Homo sapiens: one gene and its partners. The protein of the gene in region 5 purifies or fractionates together with the protein of the main gene of each other region. This does not show direct contact. Each region holds a gene or a part of one and is shown on either strand. Other genes may lie near its edges.

Region 1 (4,438 bases), on a different chromosome or scaffold from region 5:
GCTCTGAGCAGGACCTGAAGCCATCTCAGGGCTTGCACCGGCCCAGATGCTGCTGCACAAGTGCTCCAGGGGCTCCTGCCCTGCCCTCCTCACCTGCCCCCTCACCTGTCAGGGATGTTTGATTCCTGGCTGGCCCCTCCCCTACCTGACCCCTGCCAAAGACCCACGTCACCCCAGGCTTCCAGCTCTGAAGCAAACGACCAGAGAAGTCAAGCGCCTGGCTCCGGGCCACACAGCTTGAGGGACTCAGAGCTCCAGGGACAGTGCCCGGGCCCTGCTCAGGCCTTCTGCAGAGGCCCTGGGCTCTTCCAGTTGACTCAGCTCACAAGGCCCCTACACGGTAGCAGGTGAAGACAGGGCCCCAAGAACCCTCAGGCTCTGAAGCCACACATGAGAGCCGTGGACAGAATCCTGCATTGGCCTCCAGCAGCTCGAGAGCACAGGGACAAAGCTGGACTGGCCCCGGGGTCACCATGGCCTTGGTTTTGTAGCAGCTGCAGTTTGAGCACGTACACCAAAAATAAAATTCTAAGCCCCGTAACTGACTAAAGGGACCCCTCCTATTGCCAAAGGGATATTCCAAAGTTAACCTGAAAAACGAGCTCAGGTCACGATGGGAAGAGGGGGTCACACAGGCCTTGTTATACCCCCTCCCTCTGGAATTCAGGTACAGCGGACCAGCACTAACACTCAAACACAGATCTTGGCCTGGCTCAGTGGCTCATGCCTGTAATCCCAGCACTTTGGGAGGCTGAGGTGGGCAGATCACGAGGTCAGGAGTTCGAGACCAGCCCGACCAACATGGAGAAACCCCATCTCTACTAAAAATACAAAATTAGCCAGGCATGGTGGCGGCAGGCACCTGCAATCCCAGCTACTTGCGAGGCTGAGGCAGGAGAATCGCTTGAACCGGGTTGCAGTGAGCTGAGATCATGCCACTGCACTCCAGCCTGGGTGACAAAAACAAAACAAAACAAAACAAAACAAAACACAATATTCGTCTCCACAACCTCCTGTCTTACCCAGATACTCCTTTCTATTGATACCAGGTCTTTAGCTAATAACTCTTTCAACCAATTGTGAATCAGAAAATCTTTTGCCAGGCACGGTGGCTCACACCTGTAATCCCAGCACTTTGGGAAGCCAAGGTGGGCGGATCACCTGAGATCAAGAGTTCGAAACCAGCCTGACCAACATGGTGAAACCCCCGTCTCTACTAAAAACACAAAATTAGCTGGGCATGGTGGTGCATGCCTGTAGTCCCAGCTACTCGGGAAGCTAAGGCAGGAGAATCACTTGAACCCAGGAGGCGGAGGTTGCAGTGAACTGAGATCATACCACTGCACTCCAGCCCGAGTAACAAAAGCATCTCAAAAAAAAAAAAAAATACACACACACACACACACACACACACACACACACACACACACACACACACACACACACATATATATATAAAGAAAAAGGAAATCTTCGAACCCACCTGTGACCAGGAAGCCCATCCCCGCCTTGGAGTTGTCCCGCCTTTCTCGGCAGAACCAACAAATACCTTTCATGTACTGACTGATGTCTGCCTGTAACTTCTGTCCTTGTAGGAGGTATGAACTCCAGCTGTGGCCCACCCCCTGGGGCACATGTCCTCAGGGCCTCCAGGCCTTGGTCCTCACATTTGACTCCGGATAAATCTCTTCAAACATTTTACAGAGTCTGGCTTTCTCGTTAACAAGCAGCTCACACATACAGTGTCTCAGTAGTGACAGATGCTGGCCCACCCCGAGGTCAGGATGACTCAGCAGGGATCGAGTTTGCGGGCGTCACGCTCCAAGGCCCAGAATAGGAGGTCGGTGCTCATTCCTCACGTAGTGGGCAAATCCTAGGGCAGGGGAGGGGCGGGCAATGCCAGAGAACGGTCCCCACCTGGGGTGGTCTGACGGCCAGGGATGCAGGGAGAGACGCCTCCCACACTCCCGGAGGCACGCACGTGCTGTGGCCACCCCGGAGGGTCCGCCTTCCAGAGGGAGAATTCAGGATTCGGCCAGTATCAGGGAAGGAGACGCTGTGGGGGGCCCTCCTGTTGGAAAAGGGCAGCAGCGGGAAGAGGGTGCTGCCACAGGGCCTCTGGGGAGCGTGCGGGCACACAGTACCAATCTGCATGCATACACGTGTCCTGTCCCTGCAGACGGGCCAGGCAAGGCCTGCCCATGGCCAGCTATCCAGGTGATGCTCCAGGGAGGGCCAGGCCTACTGGGGGGCAGAACCCTGTGGCTGTCCAGGGTACCTGGATGTGAGTCTGGGAAGGATGGAGAAGGGTGGAGGAGCGCAAAGGGCCCCTAGGGGATGCTGGGGAACACAGATGAGCCTCTGACCCACCTGTGTCCTTACCTGGGCCGACTGGGCCACCCAGTCTTGCTGACTGACACCTCCCCAGACCCCTGGCACCCACCAGACTCCCCAGGCGTGGCTTTGTGCTCCCCTATGCCTGATGACAAATGGTGGCCTCAGTGTAGAGGTGGGCACTGTGGCCCCTGGCTCCTGGCTCGCTCCTGCCTCAGTTTCCCCAGCTGTAAATTGGGGATTATCACTGGCTTCAAAGGCTGGAGTGCAAAGTGGTGGCCAAGAGGTGGCCAAGAGGTGCCAAGAGGTGGTCCAAGAGTGTGCCCTACCTTGGACACCCCTCTCCTGGGGGTGGCTCTCAACCTGGCCTGGGCCCCCGGGGGTCTGCGCAACCCACCCTTCTGTGTGAAGGCGGCTGATACACATTTCTGGGCAAGATTCTGCACATTCTGCTGGATTATGAAAGAGGTCTGTGACCCAAGAAAAAAGGGTCACAAGTGCCCGTTAGGCTCTCCTGTGTGGCTCAGGTCATGTGCTTCTGTGAGCTCCCCCTACGGCCTTGCCCCGAATCCCGTGATGCAGCGTGACCTGCCTAGGTGCCGGCGGCACTTTCATGTGCGGCTGGGAAAGTCAGATTTCAGCACTAATCACTGGCTGCCGCCTGCAATGAGCCCACGGCTTGAGCTCTGGGGCCCACCCAGCTCCTTAAACACGCAGAACCTTTGCCAGCTGAGCCAGGATCCCAGCTGTGGGGGGTTGGGGGTGGAGGGGTGCAGGGATCCCAAAACCCAACCCGGGGCCAGGTTTTACACAGGCCTGGACTGAGAAGTGGGGCTACAGGCTACAGGTGCTTGATACCCCAGGGGGGCCCTGGAACAGGCCTGGACTGAGAAGCGGGGCTACAGGTTACAGGTGCTGGATACCCCAGCGGTTGGGGGGGTGGTGCTGGACACCCAGGGGGCAGATAGAGGCAGCCAGGCAGCCTGAAGACCCTGGGGCAAAACACACACAGGCCCCCTCTGCTCTCTGGTCACTGCTAACTGGCCAACTGGCCTTTGAGTCCACTGACCACAGCTAAGCCCACAGCCATCAAAACCCACCCCTTACACCCTTCACCCTTTAGGGAGGGGCTCAGAGACAGTTGTGGCGATTCCTACTTCCACCCATAGCCCCCCGACCCTGGGCCTGTGCCGAGCGTGGGTGGGTGACATCATCTCGCACCCAGAGCTCCAGACTAAAGGAAACCCTGGCTCCTGTCTCTGGCTCTTCCCTCCCTCTCTTTGTTCCCTTGCTCCTTCCTTCTTTTGCCAGAGGAGAAGACAGTGAGGCTGAGGGCTGCTCCATGTGCACAGTGAGCAGGAGATACAGGCACGTGGAGGGACGGTCACAGCCCGTGCAACTGGCACCTTCACACGCAGAGGCCTGGGATTCCCAGACACCTGGCGCTGGGGCCAATCCCATTCCACAGTCAGAAACAGGCTCGGCGGGGCCAGGTGGATTTCTCAAAGCCTTGGTTGCTTTTGGCCTGATGCTAGCTGGACAGTGTCTCAGCTCACAGGTTCCTAAACGCATACCCGCCCACACCAATCTGCTGAGGAGTGACAGCCATGGGGAGGAGAGCCACCTCACTCCAGGGACCCTGGCACCGTCTCCCATGAGGCCAGGTGTCCTCAGCCACCCGCAGCCAGAGTCCCGCGAGACCGACGGACGGCCTGCCCCTGCGTGACGGCACGCCTGGGACTGTCTCAGCAGCCCCCCATGCTTCACCCAACTGGGACAGGGAAACAGGAGGGGGCTACTTCTGCTTTCAAGGCATGGAGGAGCTGTCTGCAGGCCACTTCCCGAACACCTATGCGCTTGGAGAAGTGACTGAGACTGAGCCAGGGTATCTTCTCCACGATGCAGTGAGCCCATCGGGCCCTTCTTCTGAGAGCACCTCCCTGGAGGTGGAAGCCCCTGAGGCCCACAGCATCTTCTGAACCTGTGAGTTCCCACTTACTGAGAACTCGCCTGGATCAGTGCCGGGCCACAGTGGACCGGGACTTTGAGTGGATGCTACCCTACTCGCTATGCAGAGCCAGCTGGGGCCCAGGGAGGTCAGATA
Region 2 (2,600 bases), on a different chromosome or scaffold from region 5:
TAAAATCCCCCAGCAATGACAAACTGAACTTGGCTGTATTGTGGGGGAAAGGATGGAAAAAGTAAATTCAATTATATATCAATGACAGGATCTTATTTAAATGTGTAATTAAAATCTCTACTTCTTAATGACATACTGGACCTAATTATGGATTTGCTATCTACATTATTAATTAATTCACATACTGACACATGTAAGAAAAGCCTAATATTGCCCAATCCAAATGACAGGAATCCAAGTTAAGTAGGATTTTAGAATTGTGTTATGTAGGTGTTGGACAATAAATGACAATGGCTGTGGGTGTTTGCTGACAGCCCTGGGGAAAGTGTTTATACTACCTAGACAAGTATGTACACAGGAAAGAAGAGCTTTCCTTTTAAAAAGTGAATACACATCTCTCTACACAAGTGGTTCTCTCATAAAAAATCCAGTTCACAGAAAGGCTTGGGAACCAAAAGCTTAATCATAAAAGGATTTCCAGAGGAAAAAAGCAAAGAATATGTAATTTCCAATTATATTTTTCTAAATCGTAATTTACAGATGCATCAGCTCAGATCCAAGCTCCTCTTGGATCCTAACATTAGAGGTAAAAACTGGGGAAAATTTTCTAGAAGACACAAAATTAGGATGTACTAAGAAGTGTCTGAAGAGAATCAATTCCAGCTTCCACAAAATACTTAAAACTAAGAGCTAGAACTTCCCCTAGCCTACCAGCAGAGCAGGTCACTTGTTAATCTGGACTGTATAGATGAACTTCAGAGGGTCTATGAACCCCTTGAAATTACACTCACAATTCTGTGCTTATGGAATGAGAAATTTCCTGAAGTCAATCTATAGCTATCAGCTGATTCATAAAAGGATCCAAGAACCAAAAAAGATTAAGAGCTGCTCCTCTATCTGAGCAACACAAGTAAGACAGCAACTGATGACCCACAGCTATTTAATACACAGCAAAAATGTGGACAGCTTTCACAGCCTCAAAAGACATTCAAAAGATAAACAACAAACATGTAAATATATTTAAATTTGTTTTTACTAAAAACAAATATTTTTACTGGAAGCTAACAGATCAAATCAAATACCTTTAGGAAAATCTAAAGCAATGTTTAAATATTCCTTCCTGCCTAAAACCTAAGAGGATTTTCTGATCTACCATGCTACAAATTTCTACAAGAATGCACCTCTATAGAAGGAAATGCAGCCTAAGCCCTTTGTAAAGAACTCCACAGCAATAATATTACTAATCAAATCTATTGCTTTTATTGTTTTTAAGTAAGTGGTGGTATATGTCATCTTTTTAAATGTTTCTTTTGGGAAGATCTTATAGAAAATGGCACCCTGAAACTTTCAGCTCTATGTCCCAAAAATTATCTTTCAACAATCTGATGAAGTTTCTTAAAGAAACTCTTAAAAATGAAGATAATATACCTGGCCTAAATCAAAACAATCTGAAAAATGGATGTGTCCCAGTGGAAAGACTCAAGTCTTTTCAAGTTTATCAGAAATGCCACTATACACCACTGTACTATAAGTCGAGGAGGATGGATATCCAAAGGTATCATTTGTTGACAGTTCCTGATGGTCTCAGGTATATCCTATAATCACTGGTTACTATGCATCATTTCTTGTAGATAAATGGTATTCATGTGATAAGCTGCCATCCAACTTGGATGTCTCTGAGCATTCCAATAATATGAATGAGAAGCGGCAGCATAATATTCTTGCCATGCCCTGTAGTAAGCTCTCCAGTACTCCTCATAATCCTGATAGGTATCAGAAAAACTCAGACGTATTTCCCTATGACAGTCATACCAATCATCTTCCTGGGCTTCAGTCTGCAATCTGAAGGAAGACCGCCTGGGTAGGTTTCTCCGGCTCTGCTTAGCTCTCTGGCTAGCCCCCTCTTTAAGTCTTGTCTTCATCTGGATTCCAGGTGATTCTTGATATTTCTCTGGATTGGGGGTGTCACTTCCATTTGGTGGTTGTTCCAAAGAAATACGATCATCCACAGGCGTAGATTCAGAGTCTTTCAGCTGATTATCAGAAGAGCCTTCCAAGTATGACTTATTTCCTTTGCTCTGGGAAGAGGTTCTTGAGCTGTAAGAATCACTGTCACTCTCAGAGTCTCCAGATTGGCTACTACTTGCCAACACAGGGACTCTCTGTTCAATAACTTTATTTCTCACAAAACCATTTTGAGGATTCACAGTCTGATCCCCAGGGCCTGTGTAGTGCCTGATGATTTCCACAGGTTTCTCTAACCCCTCTTTAATATAATGTTCATAATCCTCTACCAATTCAGCAAAAGTCAACGTGTATGGCTGATGGATTTTAAAGGAAGACAGACAAGGAATCTGGGGGAGTGACACAGGTAAAGCTTCTTTGACCTGGTGCTGACTGTTGGTGGAGTTTTCAACGGGAGTCTGAACAGAATTCTTCATTTGCTCTTCGGATTGCCTGTCACAGCCCAGTTCTTTTGGTGACGTTGCTTTTTCTATGATTCCACATTCTGAGTGGCTTTTCACAGGAAGCTTTTGTTTGGTATTATTTTTTGATTTGACTGATAGTCCAGATACAGAATTATTTCTAGAGGAAGCCAT
Region 3 (4,438 bases), on a different chromosome or scaffold from region 5:
AAAAAAGAAATTCACTTACTTTTGAAGAATGAAAGCTTTGAACAATTGGATATTTCTATGTCAGTTTATTGGGAGTTTATGTATAAACACCTATAGACACACACATGCATATTTTAAAAAACTGCATATTATGGAAATGTTCAAATATATGCAAAAATAGAATAGTATAATGAACTCTGGTATCCGTTGTGCAGCTTCAACAGTTGTCAACATTTTGGGGATCTTGTGTGTGCGCATGTGTGTGGGGCTTTCATATGTAAGTCTGAGGAAGATAAATGGTAAATTGATTGCTTTACCTCAAAATAGACTTGAAACATTTCCTTTCTGATTTTTTGTTCTTTTTTAAAATGTCATATGCCTTCAGTGAGAAACAGAAATTTGTGGTAGTAATATAATCCATAATTACTTATTTGTGTGTGAAGACACAACATCTTTTGGCAGAAGGAGGATTTGAACTCCTGTTCTTTAGAATGTGCTGTGTTGGAGTGGATGACCAAACGTGAGTCATTTGCATTTTTATCATTAAAGAAAATCCAAATTCTATAGCAGCATTTGCTTATACGCTTCCTAGAACTGTAGACCTGGTATAGATTTTAAGGTCATTGGTTAAGTCCTTCAAAGCTGCGTATTTGCAGGATAGTAGGTGCCTGGATAGAAGGAGAGAGAAGAGTCTGTTCAGTTAGTTACCCTCCTCTTCAATATCATTCGCTTGTCAGGTAGGGCAGGAAAAGTTGCTGAGAATATTAGGTAGCAGTTTCTCCCCTTCCATTGTCCCTTAAAATACTTTTCATGCTCTTTCATGGATTATCTGGGGTTTTGGCCACTCTAGAAAATCTTTGGAAGCAGCTGCGCACAGTGGCTCATGCTTGTAATCCCAGAGCTTTGGGAGGTTCACTTGAGGCCAAGAGTTTGAGACCAGCCTGGGCACTATAGTGAGACCCTGTCTCTACAAAAAAAAAAATTAAATAAAAAATTAGCTGGGCATGGTGGCATATACCTGTGGTCCCAGCTACTTGGGAGGATGAGGTGGGAGGATCCCTTGAGCCCAGGAGTTCGAGGCTACAGTGAGCTACAATCATGCAGAGCAACACCCTGAAAAAAAAAATTAGAACGAAAGTATTGGGATTCTGTAAATTAGTCCATCTCAATGTTGTTAGTACTGCTACACGTAAATATTTCCTAATTGATAGTTAGTCTTTTTTTTTTTTTTTTTTTTTGAGATAGAGTCTCAGTCTGTTGCCCAGGCTGGAGTGCAGTGGTGCAACCTTGCCTCCCTGCAACCTCTGCCTCCTGAGTTCAAGTGATTCTCCTGCCTCAGACTCCCAAGTAGCTGGGACCACAGGCGTGCGCCATGAGGCCCGACTAATTTTTGTATTTTTGGTAGAGGCGGGGTTTCACCATGTTGGCCAGGCTGGTCTCAAAATCTTGACCTCAGGTGATCCACCCGTTCAGCCTCCTGAAGTGCTGGAATTACAGGCTTAAGCCACCACGCCTGGCCTAAATATTAGCTACTTAAACAATAAAGTTTATACTGTTAAAATTGAACAAGTTCCTCTCCTCCAGAGGTGTCCAAATAGTACATGGTAGAGCCATATAACTTTCCAGAGTTTTTTCTCTTTTTTTTTTTTGAGACAGAGTCTTGCTCTGTTGCCTAGGCTGGAGTGCAATGGTGCGATCTCAGCTCACTGCAAGCTCCGCCTCCTGGGTTCATGCCATTCTCCGGCGTCAGCCTCCCAAGTAGCTGGGACTACAGGTGCCCGCCACCACGCCCAGCTAATTTTTTGTATTTTTAGTAGAGACGGGGTTTCACCGTGTCAGCCAGGATGGTCTCGATCTCCTGACCTCGTGATCCGCCTGCCTCAGCCTCCCAAAGTGCTGGGATTACAGGCGTGAACCACTGTGCCCGGCCTTTTTTTTTTTTTTTTTTAATTGAGAGGGAGTCTCACTCTGTCACCCAGGTTGGAGTGCAGTGGTGCGATCTCAGCTCACTGCAACCTCTGCTGCTCGGATTCAAGCAATTCTTGTGCCTCAGCCTCCCCAGTAGCTGGATCTACAGGCACGCACCACCATGCCCGGCTAATTTTTTTGTATTTTTAGTAGAAATTAGGTTTCACCATGTTGGCCAGGCTGGTCTTGAACTCCCGACCTCAGGTGATCTGCCTGCCTTGGCCTTCCCAAAGTGCTGGGATTACAGGTGTGAGCCACCGTGCCTGGCCCAGAGTTTTTTCTTAAGTGCTACCTTCCAACTTTGCTAATGTAGCTTGACCTTAGTCTGTTATAAATTACTTTGAAATTTACTACCCTGTTTATAATTTCTTTTGCAAATCTGTTTTGCAGATAAATTTTGATTAACAGTGCACCAATGTAGTCAAGTGTTTCAAACTTCTGGTCAACTTGTACATTTTTCTTGTTGCAGTTTAAAACATTTTATTTTGTTTTCATCTGTATTTTAAAGTAATTTGTCAAACTTTTAGACCCAGAATAATTAATATATGTTGGCATGTTTTCAGGAACTTGCTGCTGAGTTTAAGGCTTCCATCAGGTATTTAAAGGTATTTAGTGCTACCTAATTCAAGAATAGTGATTCCCATGAGCTGGTGACAAATACATACTTTCATGATTTTTTAAAAAATTTTTGTTAAGTAATTACAGTCACCCCTTGATATGTGGGGGATTGGTTCCAGAACCCCTAGTGGATACCACAATTTTCAGAAGCTCCAGTCTCTTATATAAAATGGTATAGTATTTGCATATAACTTACATGTATCTTCCGTATACTTTAAATCATCTCTTTAAAATTTTTATTTATTTATTTATTTATTTATTTATTTTTTTGAGATGGAGCCTCACTCTGTCCCCCATGCTGGAGTGCAGTGGCGCGATCTCGGCTCACTGCAAGGTCCGCCTCCCAGGTTCACGCCATTCTCCTGCCTCAGCCTCCCAAGTAGCTGGGACTACAGGCACGTGCCACCACGCCCAGCTAATTTTTTGTATTTTTAGTAGAGACAGGGTTTAACCGTGTTAGCCAGGATGGCCTGGATCTCCTGACCTCGTGATCCACCCGCCCTGGCCTCTCAAAGTGCTGGGATTACAGGCGTGAGCCACCGCGCCTTGCTCTGTTGCCCAGGCTTGAGTACAGTGGCTTGATCATAGCTCACTGTAGCCTCAAATTCCTGGGCTTAAGCTGCTCTCCTGCCTCAGTCTCCTGAGTAGCTAGGACTTAGAGGCGTATGCCACCAAAACCCGCTAGTTTTTTTTTTTTTTTTTGAGACAGAGTCTTGCTCCCTCACCAGGCTGGAGTGCAGTGGCGCGATCTTGGCTCAGTGTAACCTCCACTTCCTGGGTTCAAGCAATTCTCCTGCCTCAGCCTCCTGAGTAGCTGGGATTACAGGCGTGTGCCACCACACCCAGCTAATTATTGTATTTTTAGTAGAGACGGGGTTTCACCATGTTGGCCAGGCTGGTCTCAAACTCCTGGCCTCAAGTGATCTGCCTGCCTTGGCTTCCTGAAAATGCTGGGATTACAAGTTTGAGCCACCATGCCCGGCTTTCTCCCATATACTTTAAATCATCTCTAGATTACTTAGAATACCTAATAGAATGTAAATTCTATATAAACAGTTGTACTCTATATTTGAAAATTTGAGCTGGGCACAGTGGCTCATGCCTATAATCCCAGCAGTTTGGGAGGCTGAGGTGGGAGGTCAGAAGTTTGAGGTCAGAAGTTCAACACCAGCCTGTGCAACATAGTAAGACCTTGTCTGTATAAGAAAAAAAAATACCATTTTATATATATATATATATATATATATATATATATATATATTTTTTTTTTTTTTTTTTTTGAGATGGAGTCTCACTCTGCCACCCAGGCTGGAGTGCAGTGGCGTGATCTTGGCTCACTGCAACCTCCGCCTCCCGGGTTCAAGCAATTCTATCTCAGCCTCCTGAGTAACTGGTATTACAGGGATGCACCAGCAAGCCCGGCTAATTTTTGTATTTTTGGTAGAGATGGCGTTTCACCACGTTGGCTAGACTGTTCTTGAACTCCTGACCTCGTGATCCGCCTGCCTCAGCCTCCCAAAGTGCTCGGATTACAGGCGTGAGCCACTGCGCCCAGCCTAGAGGTGGCTTTTTTAAACCTTCATTGAGATATGCAGTTGACTCTTGAATAACATGAGTTTGAACTGCATGGGTCCATTTATATGGTGATTTTTTTTTTCAACCAAACTCGAATTGAAAATACAGTATTCCTGGGATGTGAAACTGTTGCATACTAAGGGCTTACTTTTTATATCACTGGGTTCCACAGGGCCATTGCAGGACTTATCTGAGTATGCTCAGATTTTGGTCTATGCAGGAGTCCTGGAACCAATGTCCCCAGTATAGCAAGGGACAACTGTATTTTACATGCCATAAAAACCACTAATTTTAGGCT
Region 4 (4,438 bases), on a different chromosome or scaffold from region 5:
AGGCGCCTGCCACCACGCCCAGCTAATTTTTTGGATTTTTAGTAGAGACGGGGTTTCACTGTGTTAGTCAGGATGGTCTCGATCTCCTGACCTCGTGATCCGCCCGCCTTGGCCTCCCAAGTGCTGGGATTACAGGCATGAGCCACCGCGCCCGGCGTAGCCACCTTAAGTCTTGAGATTACAGGCATGAGCCACTGTACCCAGCCCCTTCTTTCTTTTTCTTTTTTTCTTGAGACAGAGTTTCACTCGTCGCCCAGGCTGGAATGCAATGGTGTCATCTCAGCTCACTGCAACCTCTGCCTTGTGGGTTCAAGCGATTCTCCTGCCTCAGCCTCCCAAGTAGCTAGGATTACAGGCGCCTGCCACCATGCCCAGCTAATTTTTATGTTTTGTTTGTTTGTTTTTCCTGAGATGGAGTCTCGCTCTGTTGCCAGGCTGGAGTGCAGTCACACGATCTCAGCTCACTATAACCTCTGACTCCCTGGTTCAAGCAATTCTTCTGCCTCAGCCTCCCAAGTAGCTGGGATTACAGGCACATGCCACCATGCCCAGTTAACTTTTGTATTTTTAGTAGAGACAGGGTTTCACCATGTTGGCCAGGCTGGTCTTGAACTCCTGACCTTGTGATCCGCCCACCTCGGCCTCCCAAAGTGCTGGGATTACAGATGTGAGCCACCATGCCCGGCCTAATTTTTGTGTTTTTAGTAGAGACGGGGTTTCACCATGTTGGCCAGGATGGTCTCGAATTCCTGACCTAAGGTGATCCACCCACCGTGGCCTCCCAAAGTGCTGGGACCCTTTAAGAGATGGAGTCTAGCTATGTTGCCCAGGCGGGAGTGCAGTGGCTATTCACAGGCATGAGCCAACTGGTCAGCACAGGAGTTTTGACCTGCTGTTTCCAACCTGGGTCAGTTCACACTTCCTTAGGCAACCTGGTGGTCCCCCAAGTCCCAGGAGGTCACAATATTAAGCAAAACTTAGTGCAGGACACTCCATCAGCATAGTGCACAACAGCCCAGAACTCCTGGGCTCAAGTGATCCTCCCACCTCAGCCTCCAGAGTAGCCAAATTCTGGTTCTAGATGACACAGTAACAAATTTCTTATTTTAAATTGAATTTTTAAATTAGAAGGGTTACATATAAGGCATCTTAAAAATATACAGCTAGTTATCAAGGTTGTACTGTGCTTTGATTGCACCACCGCATTGCAGCCTGGGCAACATAGTGAGACTCCATCTCTCTATGAAAAAATAAAAAAATAAGCGGGGCGTGGTGGTGTATACCTGTAGTCCCAGCTACTCAGGAGGCTGAAGCAGGAGGACTGCTTAAGCCCAGGAATCCCAGGCTGCAGTGAGCTATGATTGTGTCACTGCACTCCAACCTGAACGAGAGAGTAAAACCTTATCTCTAAAAAATAAATGAATGTGTGTGTGTTTATCTACACACACACACACACACACACAAAACGCTAACAAGTAAGAGCCAATATTAGTCCAGGCTCGGTGGCTCACACCTGTAATCCTAGCACTTTGGGAGGCTGAGGCGGGCAGATCACCTGAGGTCAGGAGTTTGAGACCAGCCTGGGCAACCTGCTGAAACCTCATGTCTACAAAAAAATACAAAAATTAGCCAGGCATGGTGGTGAATGTATGTAGTCCCAGCTACTCAGGAGGCTGAAGTAGGCAGATCAATTGAGACTGGCGGGTCGAGGTTGCAGTGAGCCAAGATCACGCCACTACACTCCAGCATGGGCAACAGAGCGAGACCCTATCTCAAAAGAAAGAGACAATATTTACCAAATATTCTTCCACTGTAGACACAGTTGAGCACTTTACAAATGTGAGGCCCTAGGTGGGGGGTACTCTTACTGCACTCATTTTACAGATGAGAAAAACCAAGGCTCAGGAAGATGAAGTGGGATGCACAGTGTTACACAGCTGCAAAGCATCAGAGCTGAGAATGGAGTCAGTGCCCTCAGTCCCCCTACTCTGCGGTCCCCACAGCCATCCCATATCGTTCTTTGATAAGGCAATGTTAAAAAAAAAAAAAGGCATTCATTTACAGTAAAATTTCAGGTTGGGCGCAGTGGCTCGTGCCTGTAATCCCAGCACTTTTGAGAGGCGGGTGGATCACTTGAGGTCAGGAGTTTGAGACCAGCCTGGCCAACATGGTGAAACCCCATCTCTACCAAAAATGCAAAAATTAGCCAGGTGTGGTGCCGCACACCTGTAATCCCAGCTACTCAGGAGGCTGAGGCAGGAAAATCACTTGAACCCGGGAGGCAGAGGTTGCAATGAGCTGAGATCACGCCACTGCACTCCAGCCTGGGTGACAGAGGGAGACTCCATCTCAAAAACAAAAAACAACTGAAATTTCAGTCAATTAATAATATAGGTGGTGTAGTATTGTACCACTTTGGGGTAAAAATCAGAAAGGAAGCTCTAAAATGCCTAACGAGGGGGAAACACTGCAAAGGAGGTAATGTAAATGAAATGCATAGTGCGGGGCCGGGCACAGAGTAAGTGCTCAATATGGGAACTATTAATATTCCCACCATCATCGTTATTGCTATCTATGGCTGTCAATCTGCTTTCGCCATCTGGTCACTATGGGTATAGGAAAGAAATTCAGTTTTCTGCCCCATCTTCACAAGTAGATGCAGGAGGAGCTGCTCACAGTCACCACACAAATCCACCGAGCTCATACATCCTTATTTTCAAAGTCAATCCCCTCACCCACGTAGGCACTAGCATCTCTTAAATTAGGGTCCAGGCACAGTGGCTCACACTTGTAATCCTAGCACTTTGGGAGGCCAAAGTGGAAGGACTGAGGGCCCAGAGGTTCAAGACCAGTCTGGGCAACACAACAAGACCATATACTTAAAAAAAAAAAAAATTAGCGGCCGGGTGCGGTGGCTTATGCCTGTAATCCCAGCACTCTGGGAGGCCGAGGCGGGTGAATCACCTGAGGTCAGGAGTTTGAGACCAGCCTCGCCAACATGGCAAAACCGCGTCTCTACTAAAATTACAAAAATTAGCTGGGCGTGGTGATGTGCACTTGTAATCACAGCTACTCGGCAGGCTGAGGCAGGAGAATCACTTGAACCCAGGAGGCAGAGGTTGCAGTGAGCCAAGACCACGCCACTGCACTCCAGCTTTGGCGACAAGAGCAAAATTCCATCTAAAAAAAAAAAAATTAGCTGGGCATGGTGGCTCAAATCAGTGATCCCAGCTACTCAGGGGGCTGAGGTGGGAGGCTCATTTGAGCCCAGGAGTTTGAGGCTGCAGTGAGCCCTGATTCCACCACTGTACTCCAGCCTGGGTGATAGAGCAAGACCTTGTTTCAAAAAAATAAATAAATTATGGACTTTTGGCCAGGCGCGGTGGCTCACGCCTGTAATCCCAGCACTTTGGGAGGCTGACGCAGGTGGATCACTTGAGCCCAGAGTTCAAGACCAGCCTGCCCAACATGGTGAAACCCCGTCTCTACAAAAAAAATACAAAAACTAGCCGGGTGTGGTAGTATGTGCCTGTAGTCCTGGGTACTTGGGAGGATGAGGCGGGAGGATTGCTTGAACCTGGGAGGTCAAGACTACAGTGAGCTGTAATCACACTACTGCACTCCAGCCTTGGTGACAGAGACACTGTCTCAAAAAACAAACACATAAACATACATACATACATAAACTAAGGACTTTTAATGGGACCTCGGCACTGATAGGCCAGCCCAGACTCACCAGAACTGGCTTCACAGAGTGGATTCTGAAGGAGTTGGGAGCAAATCCCAAGCTTACCTCCCTCTACCCAAAAGACTGCCTGGCTGGTGCTTACCTGAGAGATGGAGGTTCCTGTGAGGGCGGCCCCGCAGGTGCCTCCCCAGGCCCTACAGAGGCCTCGGGCCAGTAGGGTGGCCTGGACCCAGCTCATGCCTCTGCTTGTCAGACAATCACCTGGCCCAAAAGAAGATTCAGCATTAGCCTGGCACCTTACAGATGCTAACAGACGCAAGGGCCCCGCAGGGTCGAGGGCACACTCCAGATTATGTGGCTCACTCACCAGCCCCAATGTTTACCTTACCCAAGAAACAGGCTGATGACTCAAAGACTTTGTTCTTGGGACAGCACCCTAATCCTGCTGCCCCAGGGGCGTGATCATAGCTCAATGCAGCCTCCAACTTCTGGGCCCAAGTGATCCTCCAGCCCCAGAGCGTCGAGAAGCTGGGACTACAGACGCGTGCCACCATGCCCAGCTAATTTGAAAATAGTTTGCAGAGACCCAGGGTCTTGCTGTGTTGCCCAGGCTGGTCTCGAACTGTTGGCTTCAAGTGATCCTCCCATCTCTGTCTCCAAAAGTGCTGGGATCATGGGTGTGAGCCAGCACTCCTAGCCACTACAATCTAATTTTACAAAATCTGTGTCACTCCAACAAGAATCCCTGTA
Region 5 (4,438 bases):
CCTTCACCCTCCATATCACCATCCCATTAGCTGATATCTTTCTAGACACATACCTACCCACTGACAGTCACATAATATTATATGTATCTATGTCTGTATCCATATATTTTCAGACCTGTGTACTTTTTCTCCTCCACTGTTCAGATGCCATCTTTGAGAGGAGCAGAGAAATAAAAAGGTAATCTGAGAGATCAAGAATCTTACCTTGAGATATCAAGTATAGACCTAATAGGCACTTTTATTATTAACAAATCTAATTGTTATCATTTCCTCACCATCCAGCAGGTATGGGTGCTCATGAAAATGATCAAATCAGTTACTAGAAAAATAGAAAAGCTACATATTATCTGTAAGGAAACAAACAAAAAATCTCAATGCCAAGGCTGCACTTTAAACCAATCAAATGAGAATCTCTGAGGATGGGGCTCAGACGTCAGGGTTTTTTTTTTTCCTTAGTTTCCCACGTGATTTCAATGACAACCAAGGTTGAGAGGCTTGTAAAGAATGATCTTTCCAAACCGGGCTCAATGACACAACTCCTGCTTGAGACCAGGAGTTTGTAGACCAGCTAGGCAACATAGCGAGACTCCTGCCTTTTTTCTTTTAATCCAATAATAATAATAATAACGATCTTCCCCAGTTAATGTCAATATTCAATTTCCAATATGGAAATAAGCATCGAAAGCCTTCCTTAGAAAGGTTAGCCATGAGCCAGGTGTGGTGGTTCACGCCTGTAATCCCAGCATTTTGGAAGGTTGAGACAGGCGGATTGCTTGACTCCAGGAGTTTGAGACCAGCCTGGGCAACATGGTGAAACCCCATCTCTACTAAAAATACAAAAATTAGCCAGGCTTAGTGGTATGTGCGTGGAGTCCCAGCTACACGGGAGGCTGACGTAGGAGGATCGCTTGAGCCCGGGAGGCAGAGGTTGCACTGAGCCAAGATCACGCCACTGCACTCCAAACTGGGCAACAGAGCAAGAACTCGTCTCAAAAAAAAAAAAAAAAAAAATTAGCCATGGACCAGCAATTTCACCTCTCAGAATGTATCCAAGAAGACAACAACAGATATAAACAATGATTAATGTAGAAGGATGTTTATCAAAGTATTATTTATAAAAGCAAAATTTTAAAATTATAAAGAAACCCAAAAGAAGGACTCCTAACTGCTAGGGAGTGGAGGCACAGAATAAGGTGGAAATTTCACGTGTATCTTAAAGGATGAGAGGGAGTTTGCTTCAACAAAGATGGAAATGGCATCAGGAGGGCTCAGGACAGAGAGGAGCTTATATGCGCTTTAACCCAGACACTGGGGAGTCATGGTGTCTAGACAGTGCAAGCCAGAAACCAGAAAGAGGGAGGAAAAAAAAGAGAAAGACTCCTTACTCCTCCAGGACCAGGAGGCCCAATTAGAGCAGTTTGGCACCCCAAATGAGAACAGGGTAAGCTTCATGCAGTGCTTTTCAGACTTCACTATGTGTACAAATTGCCCAGATTTGTTAAAATGCAGATCCTGACTGGATAGGTCTGAGGCAGGACCTGCTTTTCTAATGAGCACCCAGGTGAGGCTCATGTTGCTGGTCCTCAACCACACTAAGCAGCGAGGGCCTGGAGCTAACACAAAGAAGCCATTCCCACACACTTCCCACCCCCAGAAAGGGTCTACAGGCTAATGGAGAACCAGAACATGCTATTTCGGGAGGGAAAACAGAACAAAAAACTGTACAGCTGCGACTGTGTCAAGTGACAAACCTGAAGTTCGGAGGCCAATGGTTAAGGGGTACAGGGAATCCCAAGAATGTTACAGGTTCTCTCATCCAACCCTGGTCCCAAAAAGCAAGGTGAGAAATCCTGAGCCTGGGTATTCAGCACACGCACAATGTGATTCCTCAAACATTTGATAAGTACTTCCCAGGCCAGGCACTGGAAATACCAAGAGCTCCCAGTGTAAAATCAGAGAGCTGGCCAGGCACGGTGGCTCATGCCTGTAATCCCAGCAGTTTGGGAGGCCGAGGAGGGCGAATCACCTGAGGTCAGGAGTTCAAAACCAGCCTTGACCAACATGGTGAAACCCTATCTCTACTAAAAATACAAAAATTAGCTGGGCGTCATGGCATCTGCCTGTAATCCCAACTACTAGGGAGACTGAGGCAGGAGAATCGCTTGAACCCAGGAGGCAGAGGTTGCAGTGAGCCGAGACCGCGCCATTGCACTCCAGCCTGGGCAACAAGAGGGAAACTCCATCTCAAAAAAAAAAAAAAAATCAGAGAGCTTATCAGCACGAAAATGGTCTCAAAACAAGACACCTCAGGGATAATTTGGGACTTTGAGGACAGTGGTAAGATAAGGCTAGATCAGACCTAAAGCCAAGAGCTTGGTTCAGCAGTGGGGAGTTCTCAGGAAATCACCAATCAATAAAGTAATTTAAGGCACAGGTCTAATTTTTGGAAACTGCAACCCTTGTGTTATAGGTGTGTAATAACACCTCACAGTGTGGACAAAGATTTAAATGACTGAAAATGGTAAACTTTCACATTACTTCCTAGTGCTTTTAGCTGAACAAATGAAAGTGAGAGACTTTTTTTGAGACAGGGTCCCACTTTGTCACCCAGAATGGAGTGCAGTGGCACAATCACGGCCCACTACAGCCTTGACCTCCTGGTTCAGGTGAACCTCCGACCTCAGCCTCCCAAGTAGCTGGGACTACAGGCGTGCACCACCACACAGGCTAATTTTTTGTAATCTTTTTATAAAGACAGGGTTTCGCCATGTTGCCCAGGCTGCTTTCAAACTCCTGGACTCAAATGACCCGCCCCAGCCTCCCAGAGGGCTGGGATTACAGGTGTGAACCACCGTGCCCAGCCAAGAGACTTTTTAACAGCTCCATACTTTCCTTCTTCAGGTAACTACAAAATGATCTAGCCAGTCCATTCCAGACCTGATTCCCTTTTCTTTAAAAGTTAGACTTTGATTCAGATACAGATCCAGATGCCCAGTTCTCTGCATCATTTCAGTAACTCATGTGACGTGGCAAAACGAGGCCTAAAGTGTGTGTTTATCTAAGAATGTATGCATGTCCCCAGAAATGGTGCCAGGCCCCACCTGTGAGCAGTCTTGCTGCTGACGGCCATGCCTACAGACAGCCAAGAATCTATGTAGTCTGGGCTATTTTCCTCAACAATGGTGCCCTATAAGGAATATGGCAACAGAAATGGATGGTAAGAATGCGTGTTTCTCCAGTAGCCCTCAAGAGAAAGGGTAACTATCTGGGACTGGTACAATAAACCCCATGGGAGGGGCAGTCTGTCTCTATAGAGGAGGTGGCTTTTTGGGGCAACCTACGTTGCTGATGCTCTCTTAAGGGATTACAAGTGGGGCAAGGGAGAAGGGGGAGGATGGGCCCCAAACAGAGCAATTGATACCTTTGCAGAGGGGTGAGGGATAGAGTGAGATCTATCAGGGGCACTTTTACTTTACTGGTATCATTTGAATTTTTTATAATGAGAATATATTCAAACATTACCTGCATAATTAAAAATAAATTTTAAAAAGCATGATCAAAACAACTCCACAAGCCCCTTTGCATGTATCCCATATTCACCAAACAAACCTGATTGCATTCGCCAAGACCTTCCAGCAGAAAGAAAATAAGTTCCAGATTCTAGTCCACTTAGAGATATGTTTCTTGGTAAAAATTAAAGCTGCACTGTGGCCAAGTGCAGTGGCTCAAGCCTGTAATCCCAGCACTTTGGAAGGCTGAGGTGGGAGAATTGCTTGCGCCCAGGAGTTCAAGACCAGTCTGGACAACGTTGTGAGACCCCATCTCAATTTTTTTTTTTAAAAAAAGCTGCATTGTGAGTTTGATCCCTCTGACCCCAAACACTCCTCCCAAACAGGTCCCTCTCTCACCCTGCCACCACAGGTGTCTTTCTGGATCTCACCTCTATACCCTCCCCTGCCCAAGGATAAAAATCTCCACAACTTAGCAGGGCATGTGTAGCCTTGCATGCTCCATAGGCTGGCCTCATCTCTTCCTGTTCCCCACAACAGTCACACTAAATCACAGTCTTGTCCTTCTCTGTAAGCTCACACCTCCTGGCTGACCATCCTGCTACTCCTCCTGGAATACTCTTTCCCTCTTCTCTGCTCTTGAAGTTCTGCCTTGGGACTTGGCAAGGCATCAGCCTCCACCCCTAGATGGTGTTCCCTGAGCCTGGCCCAAAGCTGAGAGCTAGGGGGTGTCCTTGCTCTGGGCTTCCATGTTGTACGGCGCTTACCTAGTATGAGAGGTTAACACTGTTAACCTCTCCACGGGTTAATCCTGTATCCTTAGCACCTGTCCCATAGCAAACACTCCATAAGTATCTGTTGCCAAAACTGAATGAAGTTTCGTACCCAAGGTCCTGATACACCACACTCAGAAAATTGAGTATCTGAAC

The links.
Region 1: the proteins of PARP16 (region 5) and SLC7A5 purify together in Homo sapiens (affinity purification with mass spectrometry; one large-scale study listed by BioGRID and IntAct). This does not show direct contact.
Region 2: the proteins of PARP16 (region 5) and DDX20 purify together in Homo sapiens (affinity purification with mass spectrometry, with the first as the bait; one large-scale study listed by BioGRID). This does not show direct contact.
Region 3: the proteins of PARP16 (region 5) and LRBA purify together in Homo sapiens (affinity purification with mass spectrometry, with the first as the bait; one large-scale study listed by BioGRID). This does not show direct contact.
Region 4: the proteins of PARP16 (region 5) and ECSIT purify together in Homo sapiens (affinity purification with mass spectrometry, with the first as the bait; one large-scale study listed by BioGRID). This does not show direct contact.

Annotation. Positions count from the first base shown.
Region 1 is NC_000016.10:87,858,954-87,863,391, forward strand, and holds part of SLC7A5 (large neutral amino acids transporter small subunit 1), read right to left. Parts: intron 1-4,438. UniProt on the Homo sapiens protein: The heterodimer with SLC3A2 functions as a sodium-independent, high-affinity transporter that mediates uptake of large neutral amino acids such as phenylalanine, tyrosine, leucine, histidine, methionine, tryptophan, valine, isoleucine and alanine.
Region 2 is NC_000001.11:111,765,901-111,768,500, reverse strand, and holds the end of DDX20 (probable ATP-dependent RNA helicase DDX20), read right to left. Parts: coding exon 1,602-2,600; 3' UTR 501-1,601; downstream 1-500.
Region 3 is NC_000004.12:151,008,377-151,012,814, reverse strand, and holds part of LRBA (lipopolysaccharide-responsive and beige-like anchor protein), read left to right. Parts: intron 1-4,438. UniProt on the Homo sapiens protein: Involved in coupling signal transduction and vesicle trafficking to enable polarized secretion and/or membrane deposition of immune effector molecules. Involved in phagophore growth during mitophagy by regulating ATG9A trafficking to mitochondria.
Region 4 is NC_000019.10:11,515,245-11,519,682, forward strand, and holds part of ECSIT (evolutionarily conserved signaling intermediate in Toll pathway, mitochondrial isoform 1 precursor), read right to left. Parts: intron 3,950-4,438; 5' UTR 3,927-3,949; coding exon 3,831-3,926; intron 1-3,830.
Region 5 is NC_000015.10:65,279,446-65,283,883, forward strand, and holds part of PARP16 (protein mono-ADP-ribosyltransferase PARP16), read right to left. Parts: intron 1-4,438. UniProt on the Homo sapiens protein: Intracellular mono-ADP-ribosyltransferase that plays a role in different processes, such as protein translation and unfolded protein response (UPR), through the mono-ADP-ribosylation of proteins involved in those processes.